Regions from separate parts of the Homo sapiens genome. Here region 2 is linked to region 1. A link means that fine-mapping ties the variant in region 1 to the expression of a gene that starts in the linked region. Tissue or cell type: tibial artery. Region 1 holds a variant in brackets; the other region holds the start of a gene. All regions are shown on one strand. Distances are between the middles of the regions.

The links. PIP is the estimated chance that this variant, and not a neighbour inherited with it, causes the effect.
Region 2: it holds the start of LTBP2, and the variant in region 1 is fine-mapped to the expression of LTBP2 in tibial artery (GTEx, PIP 0.98).

What each region holds. Positions count from the first base shown.
Region 1 is chr14:74,634,383-74,642,705 of GRCh38, reverse strand. No RefSeq gene overlaps it. Among named protein-coding and RNA genes, the nearest start is that of LTBP2, 26 kb to the right of the region's middle. RefSeq lists a silencer at 7,366-7,660. The variant C/T (reference allele first, on the strand shown) is at 4,504.
Region 2 is chr14:74,608,260-74,616,582 of GRCh38, reverse strand. LTBP2 (latent transforming growth factor beta binding protein 2) reads left to right here and starts at 4,346. Exons shown (of 36, transcript NM_000428.3): 1 at 4,346-5,132. The coding sequence starts at 4,639. LOC101928352 (a long non-coding RNA gene) reads right to left here and starts at 3,398. Exons shown (of 2, transcript XR_944029.4): 1 at 3,288-3,398; 2 at 2,535-3,016. RefSeq lists a silencer at 3,716-4,035 and an enhancer at 3,663-4,290.

The sequences.
Region 1 (8,323 bases):
GTAGCAGTGTTTCTCAAACTTTAATGTGCATTCAAATCACTGGGGTTCTTGTTAATATACAGATTGTGATCTGATATGTCTGTGATGGGCCCCGAGATTCTGTGTTTCTAACAAGCTCCTGGTTGACGCTGATGCTATGGGCCCACGGACCACACATTGAGTAACAATGGCTTGAAGTGCAGTAGGAGAGCAAAACATGCACACACGTGGCCATGATAAAAGAAAGTGAGCTGTGCGGTGACAGCTGAGAACATACGTGACAGGAGCCCCAGACTTCTCACATGGGATCCTGAGCAGAGAGGAATCCTTCAGGCTTTGCGTGCCTTCTGGCCTCAGCCTGGTTCTCGAAAGCGTTGGCCAGTTCTTTCCAGGCTACCTCTGGCTGCAGACTTGCTGGGCCGGGCCAGGCCAGGCTGGGGCTAAGTGTAAAGGGACAGGTGCAGAGTAACTGATGCACTCAGAAATTCCACCAGTGCTTATGAGAGCCAGGCCTGGCCTTGGGGTGCACACATGTTCTCTCTCAGACCTCAGCTGGTCAACACCAGCCCAGCTTTCCCTGGAATGATCCCTCTGACCAGCTCTCAGGCGAGAAATGCTTGTGTGATGTATTGCTCCCCAGGGCTCTCTGGGATCCAAGAATGTACACAAACAGAGCCAGTCAACCCAGACAGTGCATTATTTCTACTGATAAACATATATGTTCTTACAAATATGCTCACAAAATTGCCGAACTATGCTCAGCACCCAACTAGTAGCTTCGGCCACATTCTGCCTAGTGATACCGTTTTGTTCGGATTCTCAGGCCTCCTAAGAGTACCTGTGATGTCCCCTCCCCAGCCAGTCTCAGCTTGGCAAGCTCTCATAACACTCCACCCTCATAGCATCTCAATCCATGCAAAGTCATTCTAGACTTTAAGTCCAGGGAGGCCATACTGTGGGCCGCTGGGACCCGAACAGATAGAATCTTCTCAGTTTAACTCTGCTTCCTGGAAAGGTTTGTAACACATATTCACACAGGGGACTGTGCAGGAAGATGTGCGTGTTCACAAACAGGTAGCAGGTGGCATCTGGGAGTCTGGTTGACAGATTTGTAATCCACAGCCAAGCAAGTGAGCTCTGAAAGATGGGGCCTGGAGAAGGTTGCTGAATCTTTTTTTTTTTTTTTTTTTTTTTTTTTGGCAGAGTCTTGCTCTGTCGCCCAGGCTGGAGTGCAGTGGTGCAATCTCGGTTCACTGCAACCTCTACCTCCCGAATTCAAGTGATTTTCCCACCTCAGCCTCCCACCAAGCAGCTGGTATTACAGGCATGCACCACCACACCCAGCTAAATTTTGTATTTTTAGTAAAGACGGGGTTTCATTATGTTGGCCAGGCTGGTCTCAAACTCAGGTAACCTCAGGTGATGTGCCTGCCTCAGCCTCCCAAAGTGCTGGGATTACAGGTGTGAGCCACCACGCCCAGCCAGTTGCTGAACCTTTAAGGGCACTTGCCACGTGCCAGGTATGTCTCATTTGGCCCTCCCAGACATGCCTTTGGCGGGTGGTGGGCGGGAAGACTCTAACATGGTGTCAGCTGGGAGCCTACCTAGCCTGGAATTTAATTCTTCCCCAGCCCCCAATATTTTTGTGGCTTAAGTGAAGTTGAAGCTTCTCTCTAAGATTTCTGTGAACTCCTACAGACTTGTGGGTCCTTGAGCCCCTCTGCATCCATACCTGCTGGGGCAACCCTGCCATGGTCACAGCAAACCAAACACAACTTCCTCTAAGCAAATCCTGTGATCAGTATGGAGATGGCAGGGAGTTGATCTAATCCTGGCCCTATCCCCAGGGCCTCCCAGGAGATCTGTTGCTGTCCTCCTCCTCTATTTTGATGCTACAGACCCAGTGCAGACCCCACAGGTTCCTGATAAGCTCTGAGTCCTTCCTTGGACTGACAAGTTGGCCAAATGACACTGCTTCAGAGGATAAGCAATCCCTCATGTTCCAAAGATGAGAGCTCTCCTGATGTCCCATTTTTGGGTCCCATGAGACTTCAGGATCATCTTCCAGCCTAAAATTGATGTCTGTTTTGCTTCACTTCTCTTGTCCTTCTTTCAAGTCCAGTAGAGCCCATTCCCTCCAGGAAGCTTCCCCCAACTCCCCCAGCACACAAGGACATCTTCTTTCTTTGACCCTCTGTATCCTATTGTCAAACCCATCACGGGAGGCAGGAGAGGAAAGAGGTTACTGGTGCAGGTTCTGAACTTAGCTGTCTGGGTTCAAATCCCACTCCCGCCATCTGGGTGTTGTGTGACCATAAGCAAATTATTTAGTACTTCCAGGCCTTAGTTTCATTGTCTTTAAAACAGAGGGAGTAACAATAATTCCTATCTCATGGGGTTGTTATAAAGATTAAAAGAGATAATGCGTGTAAAGCTATATAGACTAAAATCTGGCATGCAGTAGCTGCTTAATAAATATTACTTATCAATAGCTATTGATATCAACCATTCAATTAGTACTTAATTTCATACTGCTTTATTCCAAGGGTATCAGGGATGACTTGCTGATGTGAACACAGGAAGAGGTCTCTTAATGATAATTGCAGCAACAACGCATCTCTTGCCAGGCACTGGGTTACGGGCTTACTCACATTATCTCTGGGCTTGAAGAACCATCAGTTAACCAGTGAAATAGTGTGGAAATTGTAGCATGTTATGAGGGTAATTTGGTATTTTTTCTGTTTGTTTGTTGTTGTTGTTGTTTTGTTTTGGTTTTTTGTTTGTTTTTTGAGACAAAGTCTCACTTTGTTGCCCAGGCTGGAATTTAGTGGTGCAATCTCAGCTCACTGCAACCTCCGCCTCCTGGGTTCAAGCAGTTCTCTGCCTCAGCCTCCCGGGTAGCTGGGATTACAAGTGCCCACCACCACACCCGGCTACATTTTTTTGTATTTTTAGTAGAGACGGGGTTTCACCATCTTGGCCAGGCTGGTCTTGGACTCCTGACCTCGTGATCCACCCACCTCAGCCTCCCAAAGTGCTGGGATTATAGGCCTGAGCCACTGTGCCTGGCCATGAGGCGTGTACTTCATTTGAAATGAAGTGCAAGTGCAAATACAGGGTTTTAATTTATTGGGGTGTTTTGGGTTTTGTTTGTTTGTTTTGTTTTGGGCTGTGTAAATGGGGACTAGGAGAACTGGAGGGTACAGATTTGCCAAGGTTTTTTCCAGACTTGTCCAGTAGGAAAAGTGTTCTGATTATTTCCTGAGCAAGATCTGAAAATCTGTCAGATGGAGGATCAGCAGAGCTATCCTGAAAACCTGCCATTTAGGATCTAGGTTGTTCAGTCAAATCTCTCCATTAGACCTAAATGGGGCCTGGAAGCAAGAGGCCTGTCTGGTTGTCAGCTGGTTGTACTCACCATGCCTGTCTCCTTTATTTAAATTGTTAAAAGCAAAGGCAAGCTTGACTCCTAGCTCTCTATTCCTTACAAGCTATGTGACCTGGACAAGTTGCTTAACCTCTCTGAACATCTGTTCCCTTATTTGTGAAATGAGGACAATAATGCTTGTGTAATACTTCAGTCCCCTTGAGGATTAAACAAAATAACATAATCAAGAGCATAGCACAGTGTCTGATACTTGGCACACCAATAGCTATTATTATTTTCCTCATCTTGGGACATGAAAACTGCCTCATAAGCTGCTCTCTTCCCAGAGCATTTGCTTTTTATATTATTTTGTTCCATCCTCTTCTACGTTTCCTAGATAAACTTATTTTGACAAATTCTGCCTTGGCTGAACTTTGGGAAAATGAGCATGTCCATCCCTAGAACAGTGATTGGAGGCTGCCTTTTGAGCTCAGCCACCATGGTGGTAGCTGGAAATCTGGGGAAACTGAGGCAGACAGTGATGCAAAACTGAGGACAGGGCCACTTGGGATGGTGAGAAACAGCTCAGATTTTGTTCTCTTCTCCCTTGGGGGTATTAACCTGTGTTCTTGACTCCCCAACAAATTATAAGCCCCTGAGGCACTCTGCCTCAGTTCCTCTGCCTATAAAATAGGAATAATAATGCTATCAACTTCGTAGGGTTGTTATGGGGATTAAATGAGATAATAAACTTATGTGCTTAGCACCAAAGCTTGGCAAATAGTGTGTGCCCAACAAATACTAGCTTTTACCATTTTATGTGTCCACGAGGCCTAACATCGCTGGGCACACAGTGAGGTTCCCGAATCCTGGACTCCACCCCTCAGAGTTGGTGCTTTTCTGCCCTGACTCCCTGCAGTCCACCTGAGTTCAGCCCCACCTTGTTGATTCCATCGGGAGGTGACATTGAAAACCACAGATGCCATCTGTTGGGGATTCTGAATTGTTTCTGGCCCTTATCAGCAGTGTAAAGGGGGCCAGGTTGCGGACAGCTTAATGAGGAAAACAGGAGCTTAGCGGCTGCCAGAGGGCAACAGAGTGCCGGAGTACCAGCCCTTCCTCTGGAGGAGACACTGTCTGCCCAGGCTCTTGGCTGA[C/T]GCACGTCGTGAGATCTGACTTCCTCTCTCTGTTTTCTTTTCAATACAGAATAACTTTCCCTACCTCAGGCCCTCACCACCCACTCTCTGGCCCAGCCTCTACCTTGGAAACAGGGTTGAAACATTTGGGAGCTGCCCCATTCATCAGGCATCCCATTTGGATCATTCAACAGTCCCCAGTACTTCCCCACTTCCCCCTTCTCTCTCTCTTGTCCCATGAGGAGTATCCATGGCAAACTCAATAAGACCTAAGATCTTTACCTTCATTTTCTCATTCAATCATTTCTACAGTCCTATGACATAGCTCTTATCCATCCCATTTTTACAGAAGCAGGAGCAGAGTCTCAGAGGTTCAGATCTTTGCCGAAGGTCACACGGCTAGAATAGGGAGCAGCTAGATTTGAATTCAGGCCTTCTGGCACCTGCTCCCTTGTTCCTCTGTACCTGCCTTCCCCTGGGGGAGGATGGCAGGATGGCAAGTGCCCAGTGCTCACAGAGCAGTGTGCTGGATGAGGGGCAGAAGGGAGACGGGGGAAGAAGGGAGGCTACTGTTGCATAGTTTGCCTTAGGACAGCCTTGACTGATGAAACCACCTTCCAGGCTCCAAGAGATTTTTCTCTCCATAGCTGCTCCTGATCTGGCTTAGAGACAATTGCCTCTGCCTTCTTTATCTCTGAAGCCTTCCCCCCAGCCCCACCTACTTGGCTTTTGACTCCTTGCAGGGTTGCAAAGGGGCCTGCAATGCCTGCACTGCCTGTCTCCTGCTTGGGGGGCTCTGGGTTCAGCTGCTGTCTCTAAGCTGGTGGCTGCTTTTGGCTTCTGCTCCAGGAGCTGCAGACGGGCCAGCAGGGGGTCTCCAGAGAGGCCAGACCCTGGAGTTAGTTAAATGAGGACCAGCTGGGTTGAAGCAGGAACGTTTTAGCCTTCCTGAGGCAGACGGAGCCTCAGCCTCAGACCCCTGCCATGCAAGCCCTTTTCCCATCACCCACTCTCTACTCTACTTCTTGGGGCTGAAGTTGTTGATATATTTCAGGCCCTGCCTCCCCAGTCCCTTCCCCCTGCAGCCCTGCTTAGAGGGCCAGCTGACTGCTCTCCCGTCCTGCCTGTCTGCCCTGGTAGTTGCCCTTCAAGCTGGGTAGTAGCTGTAGATATCAGGAGGTGCTGCTGTTCTCCAGGGCTTGGGAAAATATCCTACACTTGACCTTTCCCCCCGGCGGGGAGAGGAATGTTGAGGCCAGAGCTGAGTGGGATCTGCTATCCTGGCAGGCGGCCTGCCTGCGCCTCTGGATGAATGATGGGGATGGGCTAAGAGGGTCAGAGACTCTCCCAGCACAGGCAGAAAAGACTGAGTGCCCCAGACTGGGCCAACCTCTCATCTTTGGGGTCCATTCCCCATGCCAGAGCCCTGGGCTGGCTCTCAAGGCTGTCCCCATCATTCCTGAAACACTGAGCTGTCTGCAGTGTCCTCAGAGTCTGTCACCGCATCACACTCTCTCCAGGGAGGCTGGATTAGCTGCCCAGAGTTAACAGAGAGGGCACTGGGAGGGGGCAATTGTTGATTCTCAGTCTTCACATCTGAAAATGGCAATAGGGCTGGATTTGTGGTTTTCAAGCGGTATTCGGACAAGCCCCAACGTTCCTCCAAGATGCCTCAGAGGCTATAAGGCAAAGGGAAGTATGTGTGTTGGGGTGTTTGGGGAGAGATCAAGGGCGGGCCCCTTTCCAGCCACAGGAGCTCCCCAGTTTCCTGTTCACATCTTGGATCTGACTCCTGAACCCCTGGCAGTCTGGTCCCTGAATCCCTAGCCCCTGCATCCCACACTACTCTGCTTGCCTTGCCTGTGAGTTCCTCCAGCACAAGAGCCTTCCTACCTCCAGGATCTTATGACATCTCCTCCTGACCGTCCTCCTCCATACCTCCTTTCTGAGTTCTGTGCACCCTTCAGATCTCAGCTCCAATGTCATTCCTTTGGGGATACCTTCCCCAAATCCCCTCCCAAGTCTGTATTAGGTCATCTAGCTGCATACGTCTCTTTCTTAGCTCTACTTCAATTGCAGCTCACTGTTGATCTACTTATCTAATTATTTTCCCAGTGTCTGTCTCCTCCACTACACTGTATGCTCACAAGGGCTGGAATCAGGTCTGGATTGCATGCTGCTGTATCCCCTAGCACAGCACCTGGGACAGAGTTGGCATTCAGTAAATATTTGTTGAATGCTGAAACACTGCACAAAGGTTTTGCTCAAAAAAAAAAAAAAAAAAAAGTTGAAAACCGCTGGCCTAGAGGCTCTCTCAGTCAGTCCCCTTCCAATTCCATTTTTTTTTTCTTTGAGACAGTCTCGCTCAGTTGCCCAGGCTGGAGTGCAGTGGTGCGATCTTGGCTCACTGCAACCTCTGCCTCATGGGTTCATGCTATTCTCCTGCCTCAGCCTCCTGAGTAGCTGGGATTACGGGTGTGTGCCACCATGCCTGGTTAATTTTTGTTTTTAGTAGAGATGGGGTTTCACCATGTTGGCCAGGCTGGTCTCGAACTTCTGGTCTCAAGACATCCACTTGCCTTGACCTCCCAAATTGTTGGGATTACAGGCGTGAGCCACCGCGCCCTGCTCCCTTCCAATTCTGCATCCACATCCTTAAAACTTGGATGCAATTACCTTCACCACCAAAATATTTCTGGCCCTCCCCATTAAAACTTTACCTGGCCTTTTCTTAATTTCCATGGTGTTTAGAAGGGAGTGATGTAAACAGTAATGGGAAGAAAAATAAAGGAACTCCAAGAAAGGCAGGGTATTAGCCCCCTCCACCCACTAGAGAAGCAGATGGGGGTGGGGAAGACAGCCATGTGCTGGAAGAAGAGGACAGGGCCCAGCACTCAAACCTCCTCTGAGTCTCAGGGGGTTTGTTTGTCTCAGGACACACCTGTCCCACATCCATTGAGCTGCCTGGCAGGGGAGGAGTTCGCTGCCACTTAGGCTCCAGTGACCATAGCTCTCAGGCCAGCTGTTTCCTTGCCTTTGAATTAGTGGCTGACCCTGTGTTGTCTCCTGCCTGTTCCAAGCAGCCTGGGAGACTTCCAAGCATGTCTTTTACAGGCCAGATGTGTGTCCACTGGCTGTGAATTCTTGTATGGAGAACAGGTGGGTGGTAATTATTCTAGCAGGAGCTGAGCGTGACTGGAAGCTAAGGAGACAATTCTATGGAGCTGTCAAGAACAGAAACAATGTTCTTTTCCTGAGCTTGCTTTTATAGGAGGAGAGGGAGATGCAATCCAGGGCTGTGGCAGGAGCCTTGGCCCCTATGGCAGGTTCTGCAGCGTCCTGGAAATTCCCATCCCCCACCCCATCCATCCCCCACCTCTCTCAATTGACATCCCATGTGTAGAGAACATCTGCTGTGCACATATGCCCAGCACTTCTTCCCTTCCTTGAGTAACAGAAACTCAGCTTTCCTTTGGGAAACTCAAACTCCCCAATTCCATGCATTCCTGGTGGGGCTGCCAGCCACAGGACTCTCCCAACCCTCCATTCTCAAAGGGTGAGCATAGACCCAAGATCTGTCAGACTTTTTCCTGGGGAATTTGAATCTGAGTTGGAGTCATTACCCATAATGGAAGGCAGTTGCTTTAGAATCATCCAAAGCCAGACAGCTCATGAGTTCCCGCTACCCAGACCCCCAAAGCTGCCCTGGTCCCTTCTCAGGCCTGAGTGTTGAAGGCCTCCTTCAGTACCATGTATCTTTCCAACAAATTCTCTTTCGCCACTTATGTTTGCCAGAGCCAGCTTCTGTAACTTGCAGCCAAAGCTGATGTGTATCCCATAC
Region 2 (8,323 bases), 26 kb after region 1:
TGAGCTCCAGGTACATGAACAGTGGGCTGGCAGGCAGGGAAGAGGGCATTTGGGGATATGCCCTAGAGCTCCTTTGGTGGTGATAGTGGTGGGGTGGTTGGAAAGGTCATGATTCAATTGTGAAGAGGGCTCCAGGCTTACAAGCCCGGGGTGGAGGCAAGGCGGTGTAACCTTAAAAGCTTGGGCTCAGGTGGAAAATGATCCAGGTTTGAATCCTGCCTCTGCTATTTATCAGCTGTGCCATCTTGGGCAAGCCAGTAGCCATTGCCAACCTCAGTTTCCTCCTTTGTATGCGTGGAAATCATAATGCCTCCTTTGGTTGGTTAAATCAGCCAATTGATGTAACATGCTTAGTATGGCGTTTGGACTAAAGTAGGCTCTATCGATTTTGGCAGGTTAAAAAAAAAAAGCAAAACTCAAGTGTTTGTGGGATTGGAGATTCTGAAGAGCTGCAATCAGTCCCAGCAGTTAGAGGGTAAGGGAGATATGGGCAGTAAGTAGGTGGCAGGACAGAGTGTGGCGCCGGGATGGGGTAGAAGATGCCAGTCTTTGGAGTAGATGAACTGGGTTATGGTCCCCAGGCGAACAGGGTGGGAACGTCCAAGGACCACTTGTACTCACTGAGGAGTGGAAGGGGCGCCCGATGGTGAGGGAAAGTTGGTCTGCGTGAGGGTTTTGGCGGAGGCGAAGGGTGAGGGATGAATGGGCGGCAGACTTCCAGAAATGCAGACGGAGGAGACGGAGCAGTAATAATGACTTGGACACACAGGAGGAAAAAATAGCTCAGGGACGAAGATGATGCCAAGGTTTCTGGCTTTTGGAGGCCCACGGGGATCTGAGGTGGGTCTTGAGGGATCTAGAGGGGAGCTTCTGAAGGAAGTGGGTAGGTTCCGGGGAGAGGAAGGGAGCCCAGAACTACAGAGGTGGGTGGATATCTGGGCAAGGAGAGGTAAGTGTGGACCTGGGGCTTCCACAGCTGTGAAGGAGCAGCATCCCAGGAACAGAACGCAGCATTCTGGGAACTAAGGGGCATTCATGGTCAAATGCAAGGGGTAGGGTTCAAGGAGATCTTTAGAGCCAGCCCCAAAGGCAGCAAGCACATGAACCTGGATCAGGAGCTGCCACCCAGAACTCAGTTCCTCTCTCTTAAAATGGGTCTAATGATACCAGCCCTCCCCACTTGATGGGATTACTGTGTCCTTCATTCAGTTAGCTATCCATTTCACACATACTTCTTGGCTGTTCTAGGTTCTGCAGAAACAGTGGTGAGCAACGCAGACAAGATATCTGTTGCTTTAGAGCTGTCATTGTGGTTTGGGAAGTCAGACAAGAAATGATTTTATAGGTTGTTGAATAGGACTTTTCCTCTGCTCTTGGAATATCTGCTGAAGCCACAAAGATAGAACAATGAGGGCTAAATATTCTTGCATTCTGAAGAGAAGTACTAGACACCTTACTAAAGGCAGAACAGGTTCAACAGCAATCAAACTACATCCCTCAATTCCAGTCTACAAATGAAAGGGATTGAAGAAAGTCACTGAAGCATAACACTGCTGCATTTGTGGGCAGGGCTGAGATTTCCCCTGAGGGAACTCCCCAACTCAAACCAAATGAAGGGAGCTCCCAGAGAGAACCAGTCATCTGCAAGAAGAGGAGGCTCTGTCCCTATAACTGTCCCCCCACTGATGCTGACTATGTTGCTGGATGTTACAGGCACCTCGGTGCATTAAACTACAGCAAGACAGTTCATGGGAGAACCCAACATATGTCTTTAGGAATTGAGGACGTACATAAATGAAGAGACTTGTGTGCACTTCCTGTCTGGAGAATTCTGATCGTGGAGCCTCGCTGGAGTGGCCTGTGTGGCAAGGTGAGAAGTGGGCAGGGTGAGGAGCGGCCAACCCACCATTGTTTTGCCTGGCATAGGTGGGACAGTCCTATGAGAGACAGAGGATGCAGGGGTCTCCGAGAGGTTGGCCAGAGAGTAATTTGCTATGGCAACTCAGGGTGGAGGTCCTGTAGAGAACCTCCCAAAAACCCACATATGTGCCCATGAAAAAGCCAGCGCTTGGCACCTGCCAACCAAGGGTACCTGTCACATAAGACTTTGCTACTTTTCCTCTAACACCTCTCTCCCAGCCTTGACAAAGAGGAGCCACAGCAGAAAAGGGAGGTCAGGAAAACAGACCACACCCCACTCTCACCACTGCAGGATCTCTAGCAAAGGGACAGGGGAGAGGAGGACTATTAAATGGGATGTGATATTGATTAACTTGGATGAGATTTTGATCTGGACAGGAGCAGACTTTTTGTGTCTGAAAATGGGTCTTAATTATATTAATAGAATAGTTCTCGTGTCTGGTAGGGATGACCTCTCAAGCCAAGGACTCTGCCTGAGATGTCATTAAGGGTGGGAAAGGGAAATTTACCATAATATGGTTGAAGGTAGTAGTGGAGCAGTTTCTGGATAGTCCCTCTTTAGGTTCAGCCCATTAAAAAATTCAGTTACACGAGCAAACAAATCAATAACAAGATGATGTCAACTGTTTTATGAAGATGAAACAGGGTGGTGTGTTAGAGTCATGACTGGGGTGAGGGAGGGCTGCTCTAGATTGGAGGTCAGGGATGGCTACTCCAGGAGCTGATATTTAATCTGAGAGGAGCAGTGATGAGGAACTACCCTCTAACATCCTGGAGAGGAACCTTCCAGTAGAGGGAAGGGGGCATTCACTTGGCTTGTTCAAGGAGCAGAGAGAGGGCCAAGGCAGCACAGTGTGGTGGGTAAGGGAGAGCAAGAGGCCAGATGAAATCAGAGCGGGGGCAGCCAGCTAGGGTTTGTAGGCCAAGGCCAGGGGTCGAGGCTTTATTTCAACAGTAGATATTACCTGGGCTTGTCTTTTGTGTGGTGTGGGAGGTTGTGAACTGGTGCCCACATGCCAGCTCCTTCACTCTGCCTCTCTGGGAAATAGGCTGTACAAATGTGCCAGGGGCAGCCCTGTTGATCCAAGCCTTTAGGCTGTAGGGAGGGAGCATGGGTGAGAATGGTGTGCTGATTACTGGGGACACGCAGACAGCGGCAGTCAGCATTCCCACACCCCTGCCCGCCTCCCTGCTAACACAAGATGTGAATGCACACACTGGGTCAATCGGGGTCACCGAATCCCCCTCTGGGAAATTCCCGAGAGAGTGAAGGGCTGGGTGGGATCCCGGGAATGGATTCAGCCAGAGGCGGGAGGCCTAGATTCCACTCCCCTCTTTCACATGCGCTATCTCCTTGAGTGACTTACTCAAGAGGCTCCGTGTCTTTGCCTCGGTGAAAAAGAGGACCCCTTGGCCGGGCGTGGTGGCTCACGCCTTTAATCCCAGCACTTTGGGAGGCCGAGGCGGGCGGATCACCTGAGGTTGGGAGTTCGAGACCAGCCTGACCAACATGGAGAAACCCCGTCTGTACTAAAAAATAAAATAATATACAAAATTAGTCAGACTTGGTGGCGCATGCCTGTAATCCCAGCTACTAGGGAGGCTGAGGCAGGGGAATCGCTTGAACCCGGGAGGCGGAGGTTGCGGGGAGCTGAGATCGCACCATTGCACTCCAGCCTGGGCAACAAGAGCGAAACTCCGTCTCAAAAAAAAGAAAGAAAGAAAGAAAGAAAAGAAAAAGAAAAAGAAAAAGAGGACCCCTCTTCTACCGGCAGCCATCACCGCGCCAGGCTCAGGCGTGACCCTCACGCCAGTGGAAGGGGATTGAGATCCAGAGCGAAGGCGGCGGCGCCAGGGCATTGCAGCCACGGAGCGCCAGGGCCGCCAGCTCCGCCAGGGGGCGCGCCCGGGACCTCCCTGCGCTCCGCGCGCCGCGCCCCGCCCCGCGCCACCCCCGCTCCGGCCGGCCCTGCGGAGGGCGCCCCCAGCGGCCAGGGCGCAAGCGGAGGGGGCGGCGGCCCTGTTCCCCTACGCGGGCCTCGGCGCCCCTCCCGGCTTCCTTCAGACCTGCAAGGCTGCAGCCTGGGTCCCCCGATCCAAAGACGGTCCCTGAGGCGAGGGGCGGGAGAACGATTCGGGGCAGGTCTGCAGTTCGAACTTGCCCAGAGCAGGAGAAAGGCGGCCCAGTGTCCCGGTCGTGGCAGGCGCCATCTGCCCGACCAGCGCCTGGGTCAGCCCCGCGCCGCCCCCTGCTCCGCACGGGTTAATCCCCCTCGCCGCCCGCTCGCCGCCCGCTGGCTTCCCGGTGCCAAAGTGGGTGTTGCTGGAATTCCTCGCTCCCTCTCCGGTAATGAGGGGGCTGAGCTGTCCCTCCGAGGAGGGGGCCTGGTGTGGATAAAAGAGACGAAAAAGCCGGGGGAGGTTTCCAAAAATAAAACCGTCCGGGTCCCCTTCAGACGGCTGCAGGCACAGGGAGGAGGCGCGAAGGTGCAGCAGCCGTGCGAGCCCAGCTGGAGTAGGAGCGCGGACTCGAGGCTCGGGGCGCGCAGCCCTCGTTCCGCCGAGAGCCGGGCCCCCAGTCGGCCGCTTCAGGGCCCCCTAGACTCAGAGAAGCTGGCCGCCGGGCGGGGCCGGGAGAACAGCCCGCGGGCGTCCAGCGTGCCGACCACAAAGCTCTTCGCGGTGCCCGCGCGCACCACTCTCCAGCCGCCCCGCGCCATGAGGCCGCGGACCAAAGCCCGCAGCCCGGGGCGCGCCCTGCGGAACCCCTGGAGAGGCTTCCTGCCGCTCACCCTGGCTCTCTTCGTGGGCGCGGGTCATGCCCAAAGGGACCCCGTAGGGAGATACGAGCCGGCTGGTGGAGACGCGAATCGACTGCGGCGCCCTGGGGGCAGCTACCCGGCAGCGGCTGCAGCCAAGGTGTACAGTCTGTTCCGGGAGCAGGACGCGCCTGTCGCGGGCTTGCAGCCCGTGGAGCGGGCCCAGCCGGGCTGGGGGAGCCCCAGGAGGCCCACCGAGGCGGAGGCCAGGAGGCCGTCCCGCGCGCAGCAGTCGCGGCGTGTCCAGCCACCTGCGCAGACCCGGAGAAGCACTCCCCTGGGCCAGCAGCAACCAGCACCCCGGACCCGGGCCGCGCCGGCTCTCCCACGCCTGGGGACCCCACAGCGGTCTGGGGCTGCGCCCCCAACCCCGCCGCGAGGGCGGCTCACGGGGTGAGCATGGGAGAGGGAAGTTTGGAGGGTACAGAGGGGAGCCAGGGCTCATTTGTGGAGGGGCGTGCAGGCGAGAGGAGAGGGCGCCGCTCTCATACCCTCGTCCCTCTGTCTTTAGTACTTCGGGAAACAGCCCCGAGGTTCCAAAATCGGGATTGGAAGATTTGATCCGCTTTCGAAGAGTTGAAGGCAGATAGATCATCATCCTCATCCTTTCTTACCAACTCTCCCGGAGCCCCGACGTTAAATCCTTTCGCAAGGCGCCTCTCCACTCGCCCGCGTTCCTCCTGCCTGCAACTAACGAGCTCTTGTAGACTCTTGCAGCGCTGCCGGGATCTGAGAGGCAGCGGGGAGAGGGCAGGAGGGTGGGCGCTCCAGGCTCTTGACGCCCAGGGGAGGTTGAGCTGGCTCAGAGCGCGGGTTGGCGGAGGTGTCGGGGGCCCCATGGAGAGAAGGTAGATGCGTCTCCAGGAGGGGAGCCGGCAGCGAAGCTGGTGCGTCGGGACAAGTGTCGTGGGGCGTGGGTCGGCCTGCGCACGCTGAGGGCTGGATGCGGGCGTGGGCGTGAGCTCTGGGTACTTTGGGCGGGAAGCGTGTCCTGATGAGGCTGCGACACAGTGGGCGCGTGGAGAATTGGATCAGTGTGCTCTTGTGCATCTAGGTGTAAGCGTGACTTGGGCGCGTTGCAGGGCTAAGCCACCGCACAACCCTGCAATTTACTTTTTTGCTCCCCCTGGGCACCACCCCCTGCCCACCGCGGGCGCCGTCGCAGAGTGAGAAGATGCCCCAGTAATCCCCATCCCCAATCGGATCATCATGGCTGCGGGCACGCTCCGCCTTGCCTGGGTATGGCAGGTGCCTCTGGAATGGAGGGCACTGAGCCCTGGGCAGTGAGGGGCTGGGTGGGGGCACCATCGGGAAGTCTGGGAAGGGCTTTGGCAGCCTCTCTTTGCCTGGGCCCGATTTGCCAGTTGGGTTTAGTCCTGGGGAACAGCATGAAAGACACTTGTACCCCGAGTCCTACTCCAAGGACCTTGCACTTCGCAGCCTTGGCGCTCTGTTTTCCTTGGCGCTCTGTTTTCCTTGGCTGGAGCGCTCTTCTCATATTTCAGCAGGATTGAGCTCTGTCTCTTTCAGATTTCTGCTCAGAGTGACTTTTGGCCACCCGTGCCCCATCCTCTTTCTCCTTTCACCCTGCTTTATGTTTCTTCATAGTACTTATTCTATCTGATATGTTCTATTCCTATTTATGTGTTTATGGCCTGGCCTCCCAGCCCACACTAATGCAAGCTCTATGCAAACAGGGACTTCGTTGTGTCCATTTCTGTGTCTCTTGTGCCTAGAATAGTGCCTGCACTGGTTGGTATTCTCTAGGTATCTGTTGAATGAGTGGATGAACTCCCTGCTGCCCATGGAAGGCCCAGCTTCAAGCAGGCAGAGAGTAGACCCATGCACTGCCAAGTCGCTTACACATAGGATCATTCAACAAGTCTTAGTGGAAAGCACCTGCTGTGTTTCAGCGTTTTCCTTTCCTGATCTGTGCAAGTGAATGCATGCTTCCAAGGATCCTGCGTGCAGAGCATGGGAAAGGGGATGGAGGCCCAGAGTCCAAGGCATTGTTCCTGCTGGGAGAGCAACCCAATTACTTAATATCACGTTGAAGAAATGAACAGATGCTTTCTAGTACTGGAAGGTTCCTGTTAAGTGCAAAGGAGTGGGGCAACTGTAGCTGAAGAGCTGAGTAGAGGGGACCTGTGACCTGGGGCCCCTGGGGCTCTGTGGGCAGCATGTGGGGAAGCAGAGGGGAGGTGGCAGGAGGGGGGCCTGGAGGTGAGGGTGGTGTGCAGATGTAGCACTGCCCAAGGACAAGGGCTTTTTACTGTTGGCACTGGCCCAGGGGTAGCACTGCAGCTTTGGTGTAGGGGAACCTAGAGACATAGCTTGGGCTGGAGCAGGGAGGAGCTTGTACTGCAGGCATTTAGGTGCAGGTGAGGTGCGGGGGAAGGTGGGGAAGTGGAGCGTGGGGGCTGGAGGGTGCACTATTAGAAGTCATGAAATAAAGCGAATTGTCACTACAACAAAGCTGGTGGATGTGAACAGGCATGTGAAGACATGGGCTGGGTGCCACCTGCTGTACACAGGTGCACACATCACATGACACACTGGTCAGGCTCCTCCCCCACATTGTCTTCTGCAGCTTTGATAAAGAGTGGGTTCCCTGACACTCCAGTCAGCCACTCCATGTCAGCTGGGGAGGACCTGAGGGGTCATCTTGTTTATTCTCTTCCTCCACCCTGGTCCATTCTGGCTAATGGCTTCTAGTCAGGCTGATCAGGTTGGCCATTCATTGCCTTGTGAGCTGCAGACAGCCAGGGACCAAGTGCCACCTCCTGGTGAATCTTGGAACTGCACCACTGCTACTGGAGCTTCTTCATTCATTCGACAAATATTTTGGAAGAACTTCTATACCCAGGCCCTATACTGGATCTTGAGGATATAGCAGTGACCAAGACAGGCATACTCTGTCCTCATGGAACTTTCAATGTAGAAAAGATTTATTGCACATAATAAAGACTTATTAAGTTTGTGCCAGGCTTGATGCTAGGTATTTGGGATACAGCAGTGACCAGAGTGGACACCGTCCCTACGCTAATGAAATTTACAGTCTACAGGGTTTCTTTTTCATTTCTTTTCTTTTCTTTATTCTTTCTTTCTTTTTTTCTTTTTTTTTTTTTCTTTTTTTTGAGATAGAGTCTCTTGCCCTGTCACTCAGGCTGGAGTGACATTATTTCGGTTCACTACAACCTCCACCCCCGAGGCTCAAGCAATTCTCGTGCCTCAGCCTCCCTAGTAACTGGGATTATGGGCGCACGTCACCACACCCGGCTAATTTTTTGTATTTTTAGTAGAGATGGGGTTTCGCCATGTTGGCCAGGCTGGTCTCAAACTCCTGAGCTTAAGCACTACACCCACCTTGGCCTCCCAAAGTGCTGGGATTACAGGTGTGAGCCACCACGCCTGGCCTCTATAGGGTTTTTTGAACCAGCCTCACAGCAGACCACCTGTATAATATTTTTCTCTACCTTTCCCTCTTGTTCTGTTATTATTTTTCTTTAACTTTATATTCTGTTAAAATAACAGGATTTTGTGTTTTATCTGTTTTAAAGTATATTATGAAGTTTTATAAATGC